Linked DNA regions of Homo sapiens. The protein of the gene in region 2 purifies or fractionates together with the protein of the main gene of each other region. This does not show direct contact. Each region holds a gene or a part of one and is shown on either strand. Other genes may lie near its edges.

Region 1 (3,500 bases), on a different chromosome or scaffold from region 2:
AAAACCAGTAACTTAACTGATAACATCAGTTACTTTGAGGGATGCAGATTCGAGGAAATATTGGAGAAAGATTTGAGAAGGAGACTATAAAAAGTTCATAAACCTCTAAATTGCTTAACTGGTTAGAATAAGGTTGTATTCTTTAATTTTAAAATAAATTCAAATTTTAAAAATAAGCCTGTACCTAGAGAGAATGTATGTACTTAGAAGAATGCTTGGAAACTCGTATTATCGAAAAATTCTAGATCTGAATAGAGAGATAAAATAATCTAATATGTGTATTGGCACTATATGCACATACATAAAGTGTTTAATGAATCAGTAAATTTTGTGAATATTCTTAACAGGAGAAACTCGTGAAGAAAGAACCTTCCGTAACTGGATGAACTCTCTTGGTGTCAATCCTCACGTAAACCATCTCTATGCGTAAGCCTTCCTACTGCTATTGTAAACAGTTACGAATGTCATGAATGGATGTTAAATAATGACAGCTCTAAAGATTTTCTAGATATTAATTTGTAGCTATTATTTATATTGGAAAATGTCAAGTGGTGATTTCCATCATCATTTTCCAAATACACAAAAGCTTTAAGTATTCCTTTACATGATCGTTAACTGTAAGTGATAGAATATATAAATGTCTTTATAGTACCCTAGGGAGCAAATACTTTATATTTTGAAACAGCTGTTTGGGAGGTTGAGGTGGGGGCATTGCTTGAGCCCAGGAGTTTGAGGCTTCAGTGAGCTATGGTTGTGCCACTGTACTCCAGCCTGGGCAACAAAGTGAGATCCTATCTCTAAGAGGGAAAAAAAAAGAAAGGTAAAAAAGAAAGAAACAGAGACCAGGGAATCCTTTAAGTAGACCATCCACAACAACTCAGGGACTTTGGTTCATTGTTCTCTCAGCCTGGAACGTTCTTTGCTCGCATATAGTGGCTCGTATCCTTACTGTATTCCAGTCACTGATTCAAAGATTTCCTGACTACCACCTGCTACTCTCTAACCCCTAACCCTAGTTCCTTTTTTTCTTAATAGCACTTACATACACCCCTAAAATTGTTTGTTTATTGTCAACAAACCAATACCCCCCGTATTGTTTGTTTATCCATGTACTTGTTTATTGTCTATCTCTCTGACTCTAATGCAAGGACAGGGATTTTTGTCCTGTGGGCCCAGCCTCTAGAACAGTGCCTTGCTTACAGTAAGCTCTCAATAAATACTTATAAATGAATGGGATGGTCTTAGCTCTGTTTTCAGCACAGATTGATAGAAAATATGAGTCTTGGGTATTATTTATGGTTTTATATATCTTGTTTGACAATGTAGTGTTACTGTTTTTAAGGAAAGTCAAGTCCCAGCTTCCTGAAAACACTGATTACATTATTTTTAAATCATTAGTGACCTGCAAGATGCCCTGGTAATCTTACAGTTATATGAACGAATTAAAGTTCCTGTTGACTGGAGTAAGGTTAATAAACCTCCATACCCGAAACTGGGAGCCAACATGAAAAAGGTAGATAATTAAGTTGCTGTATATATTTGTTAGAGTATTTTTATTCTCGATTAATTTCTTTTGTTTCTAAAACTCTTGACGCTGAGCTTCTTGAGGACAAAACTGTGTCTTATTTGTTTTTGTGTGCTGATACCTAGCATTATACAAGACACACACACACGTATGCAGATTAAACAAATGGAAGTCTTTAACCATTTACTCTTGTGCCTTTGCAGCTAGAAAACTGCAACTATGCTGTTGAATTAGGGAAGCATCCTGCTAAATTCTCCCTGGTTGGCATTGGAGGGCAAGACCTGAATGATGGGAACCAAACCCTGACTTTAGCTTTAGTCTGGCAGCTGATGAGAAGGTATAGTACACAATTTTAGCTGTTTAGTCTTTACTATCATACAGGTCTGTGATTTAGTCCTTACTGTGTTTAATAAGTGGATATGTCGATAACTACACTTTTGAAATATGTTATATTTACACTCCGAAATGAGTTTAATTAATGAATATATGTTGGATGTTAAGTGGGAGATGCTTCCTTGCAAGTTAGGCAGCAGAACTATGGTTAGTCCCTTTTTTAAAAAATAGGAAGCCTGACACACAGATTTCGGCCTCGTTTAGTGTCAGTGAATTAAAAAATTGTCAGAACAAAATTATGAACATCTTCATGCTCATTTGAAAATAAAGATCTCTCTCTGTAATGCTGATGAAGATCACTATAATGCTGAAAAGCATTCATTATGACTGGGCACCAGCCAAAGCACAGCTTATTTTATGCCATTACCGCTATTGGAATAGTACAAAATGTGCCTACAGTGGGCTGTTGGACCTGCTCATTAAAGCACTGTCAATCTGCTCCTCTCTCACCACTACAAAGAGTAGATCAGTAGCAAGCCACTACTGCTTGAAATATTTTTTTCACATAGTGTGAATCTCTTTCCATGAAATCTTTAGTCCTTGAAATTTAAGGAATATAGGGGCCAGGAGTGGTGGCTCACGCCTGTAATACCAGCACTTTGGGAGGCCAAGGAGGGTGGATCACGAGGTCAGGAGATCAAGACCATCCTGGCTACACGGTGAAACCCTGTCCCTACTAAAAATATAAAAAATTAGCCGGGCGTGGTGGTGGGCACCTGTAGTCCCAGCTACTCAGGAAGCTGAGGCAGGAGAATGGTGTGAACCCGGGAGGCGGAGCTTGCAGTGAGCAGGAGATTGCGCCACTGCACTCCAGCCTGGGCGACAGAGCGAGACTCCGTCTCAAAAAAAAGAAGAAAAATTTAAGAAATATAAAAAGTGGAAGATAAAGCATCTTTCTGATGTTTGCATTTTTCCTCATAAAGTAGATGGTGACGTTTTCTTCTGCTGCCTCTCTTAGATATACCCTCAATGTCCTGGAAGATCTTGGAGATGGTCAGAAAGCCAATGACGACATCATTGTGAACTGGGTGAACAGAACGTTGAGTGAAGCTGGAAAATCAACTTCCATTCAGAGTTTTAAGGTCAGAATCCATATTTGACTATTAAATATTATGTTTGCTGGATAACATCTATCATTTGGGAAGGCAACTTTTGGCTTCTTTGTGAGTGAGAATTAGTGTTGGGCTAATGGCACAATTCTTTACGAATTCACTGGGCTTTGTTTTTGGCACTTGATATAAGTAAGCACATGTTAATTTGTATGTATCAAAATTCTCAGATTTGTTCTCCTTTCACACTAGGACAAGACGATCAGCTCCAGTTTGGCAGTTGTGGATTTAATTGATGCCATCCAGCCAGGCTGTATAAACTATGACCTTGTGAAGAGTGGCAATCTAACAGAAGATGACAAGCACAATAATGCCAAGTAAGGGAGACTGCTAATAGTATGAAAAGAACGCAGCTTTGTAGCTGGACAGATCTGAATTCTAATTCAGGTTCTGCCATTTAAGAGTGGTGTCACCTTGGGAGAAACCTCTTGGAGCCTCAGATTCCTCATCAATAAACTGGGGGCAATAATACT
Region 2 (3,500 bases):
TCTGGCCACAGCGTGTTTCTCTGTGGCCCCGTGCGGGGCGACCTTGCTACCCAGGCCCACAGTAGGCTGTATGCGAAGAGCCTGCGCCTCTGCCTCCAAGAAGGCCTCCAGGTCTGCATCCTGCATGAGATGGACATGAGAGCTGATCCCCAGGGCCTTCATGGGGAAGGAAGGAGGGGGCTTGAGGAGCTCAGGCCTGCTCTGACTGTGCCTTTTTTCCCCCTCAGGTTTCTGCAAATGCGTGAATGAGCCGGATGCCAGCCTCTGTCCCCTGGAGCCCAGCGTGAGGAAGAGGCATGCCCCATCAGCCTTCAGCTTGAGCCCGGCGGCCCCCGCCCCCGCCCCCTGCCACCCTGCACTGCCCCGGCTCCCCCGCGGCCCCCACGCTGCAGTGCGGCCGGGCCCCCTCCCCGCAGGGGCCGCCCCCGCCGCCCACCCCTAGCGCCCGTGGTGGTGGTGGTGGTGGTGGTGGTGGTGGCCCGGGCCGCAGGGCCATGAAACTACAGGCCGTGATGGAGACGCTGTTGCAGCGGCAGCAGCGGGCGCGCCAGGAGCTGGAGGCCCGGCAGCAGCTGCCCCCCGATCCCCCTGCTGCACCCCCCGGCCGGGCCCGGGCTGCCCCCGACGAGGACAGAGAGCCCGAGAGTGCCCGGATGCAGCGGGCTCAGATGGCCGCACTGGCAGCCATGCGGGCTGCAGCTGCGGGCCTGGGACACCCAGCCAGCCCCGGCGGCTCTGAGGATGGGCCCCCAGGCTCGGAGGAGGAGGACGCGGCCCGGGAGGGGACACCGGGCTCACCCGGGCGAGGCAGAGAAGGGCCAGGAGAGGAGCACTTTGAGGACATGGCCTCCGACGAGGACATGTGAGTTGGGGTCTGGGGCAGGGCCTTCTGGGGGCTGTTACTGGCTCTGAGTGTCACTCTGCTCATCTGCAGAATGGGAGTAAGGGTCAGGTCGCGGGATCTCCTTCCTGTAATTCCAGCAGTTTGAGAGGCCGACGTGGGAGGATCACGTGGGCCCAGGGGTTGGAGACCAGCCTGGGCAACATAGCAAGACCCCATCTCCGCAAAAAATTAAAAAATTAGCCAGGCATGGTGGTGCACCTGTGGTCCCAGCTACTGGGGAGGCTGAGGCAGGAGGATCCCTTGAGAACAGAAGTTGAGTTGTGATTGTGCCACTGCACTCCAGCCTGGATGACAGAGATAGACCCAGTCTCAAAAGAAAAATGGTTTTTTTAGCCGGGTGCTGTGGCTTACGCCCGTAATCCCAGCACTTTGGGAGGTCGAGGTGGGTGGATCACCTGAGGTCAGGAGCTCAAGACCAGCCCGGCCAACATGGCGAAACCCCATCTCTACTAAAAATACAAAAATTAGCCAGGCGTGGTGGCAGAAGCCTGTAAACCCAGCTACTCGGGAGGCTGAGGCAGGAGAATGGCTTGAACCTGGGAGGTGAAGATTGCAGTGAGCCAAGAATGTGGGTTTTTTTTTTTTTTTTAGACAGAGTCTTGCTCTTTTCGCCCAGGCTGGAGTGCAGTGGCGTGATCTCAGCTCACTGCAACCTCCTCCTCCCGGGTTCACACCATTCTCCTGCCTCAGCCTCCCGAGTAGTTGGGACTACAGGCGCCCGCCACCACGCCTGGCTAACTTTTTGTATTTTTAGTAGAGACGGGGTTTCACCATGTTAGCCAAGATGGTCTCGATCTCCTGACCTCATGATCTGCCTGCCTTGGCCTCCCAAAGTGCTGGGATTACAGGCGTGAGCCACCACACCCGGCCAACTTTGTTTCATCTTAGTTAACTTAAAGCAACCTAGCCACCGATGGCTACAGCAGATTCAGCGGCAGGGGCAGATAAAATCTGCAGCCGGCTGGACCTGCATAGCGTGTGGGTCCCCCCAGGGCTGGCTGAGGGCTCACTTGCTGTGGGATCCTGGCCTCCAGGAACCCGCATCTTCCTGGGAGGACCTGAGCAAGCAAAGATGCTGGGCGCAGTGGCTCACGCCTGTAATCCCAGCACTTTGGGAGGCCGAGGTGGGAGGATTGCTTGAGCCCAGGAGTTCAAGACCAGCCTGGGCAACCTAGTGAGGCCCCATTTCTACAAAAAGTACAAAAATTAGTCGGGTGTTGTGGCATGCATCTGTGGTCCCAGCTACTCGAGAGGCCGAGGCGGAAGGACTGCTTGAGCTCAGGAGGTCAAGACTGCACTGAGCTGTGATCACACCACTGCACTCCAGCCTGGGCAACAGAGAAGACCCTGTCTCAAAAAACAAAACTGGCCGGGTGCAGTGGCTCATGCCTGTAATCCCAGCTACTCAGGAGGCTGAGGAGGAGAATCGCTTGAACCTGGGAGGCAGAGGTTGCAGTGAGCCGAGATCGTGCCTTTGCACTCCAGCCTGGGCAACAAAGTGAGACTGTGTCTCAAAAAAAAAAAAAAAACAACCAAACAAAACCTAGCAGCAAAGAAGCAGGTGATATCAGGTTGTACAAACAGCTGCCAATGGCTGGGCGTGGTGGCTCACGCCTGTAATCCCAGCACTTTGGGAGGCCGAGGTGGGCGGATCACGAGGTCAGGAGATCGAGACCATCCTGGCTCACACGGTGAAACCCCGTCTCCACTAAAAATACAAAAAAATTAGCCAGGCGTGGTGGCGGGCGCCTGTAGTCCCAGCTACTTGGGAGGCTGAGGCAGGAGAATGGCATGAACCCGGGAGGCGGAGCTTGCAGTGAGCCGAGATTGCGCCGTTGCACTCCAGCCTGGACGACAGAGCGAGACTCCCTCTCAAAAAAAAGACAAAAAAAAAAAAACGGCTGCCAAGAAAGTCTAGGAGGGTGCCGTGGAGGGGCAGTGGCGAGGGTGGGGCGGATTTCAGATGGCGGTGGGAGAATTCTCCCTGTGGAGGGAAGGGGAGGTGGAGCTGGGACAGCATGCATGGTGCAGGATGCAGGAACCAGCCTGCCGTAATGATTCCCTTTTTTTTTTTCCCAAGAGAGTCTTGCTCTGTGGCCCAGGCTGGAGTGCAGTGGTGCCATCATAGCTCACTACAGCCTCCATCTCCTGGGCTCAAGGGATCCTCCCGCCTTGGCCTCCCAGAGTGCTGCCGGGATTATAGGTGTGCGCCACCGTGGCTGCCTGCGTGATGCTTTTCAAGGCCCCAAAATTCACGCTGTAGGGACGGCTTGTGCTGTTCTGGGCTAATTGGAAACAAAGTGGGCGTCACGGGTGCCCCACGCTGTGCTCATGAGCGCTCTCTGCAGTCTGAGCTGGCGGCGGCCGGCTCTTCCTATTTCCAGAGAGGGAAACTGAGGCTGGGCGGGGAGTGGGTCTTTCCTTGGGCTGGGACGAGCCAGCACCTTCTCCCCTGACTCCTGCCCTCTGCTCACCCCAGGAAGCCCAAATGGGAGGAGGAGGAGATGGAGGAAGACCTCGGGGAGGATGAGGAGGAGGAGGAGGAGGATTACGAGGATGAGGAGGAGGAGGAGGACGAGGAGGGGCTGGGCCCCCC

Evidence for each region. The genes of interacting proteins can lie anywhere in the genome.
Region 1: the proteins of ARID3A (region 2) and PLS3 purify together in Homo sapiens (affinity purification with mass spectrometry, with the first as the bait; one large-scale study listed by BioGRID). This does not show direct contact.

The regions. Positions count from the first base shown.
Region 1 is NC_000023.11:115,644,674-115,648,173, forward strand, and holds part of PLS3 (plastin-3), read left to right. Parts: intron 1-347; coding exon 348-426; intron 427-1,398; coding exon 1,399-1,513; intron 1,514-1,728; coding exon 1,729-1,862; intron 1,863-2,876; coding exon 2,877-3,000; intron 3,001-3,219; coding exon 3,220-3,344; intron 3,345-3,500. UniProt on the Homo sapiens protein: Actin-bundling protein.
Region 2 is NC_000019.10:929,035-932,534, forward strand, and holds part of ARID3A (AT-rich interactive domain-containing protein 3A), read left to right. Parts: exon of another isoform or gene 1-111; intron 112-227; 5' UTR 228-494; coding exon 495-862; intron 863-3,383; coding exon 3,384-3,500. UniProt on the Homo sapiens protein: Transcription factor which may be involved in the control of cell cycle progression by the RB1/E2F1 pathway and in B-cell differentiation.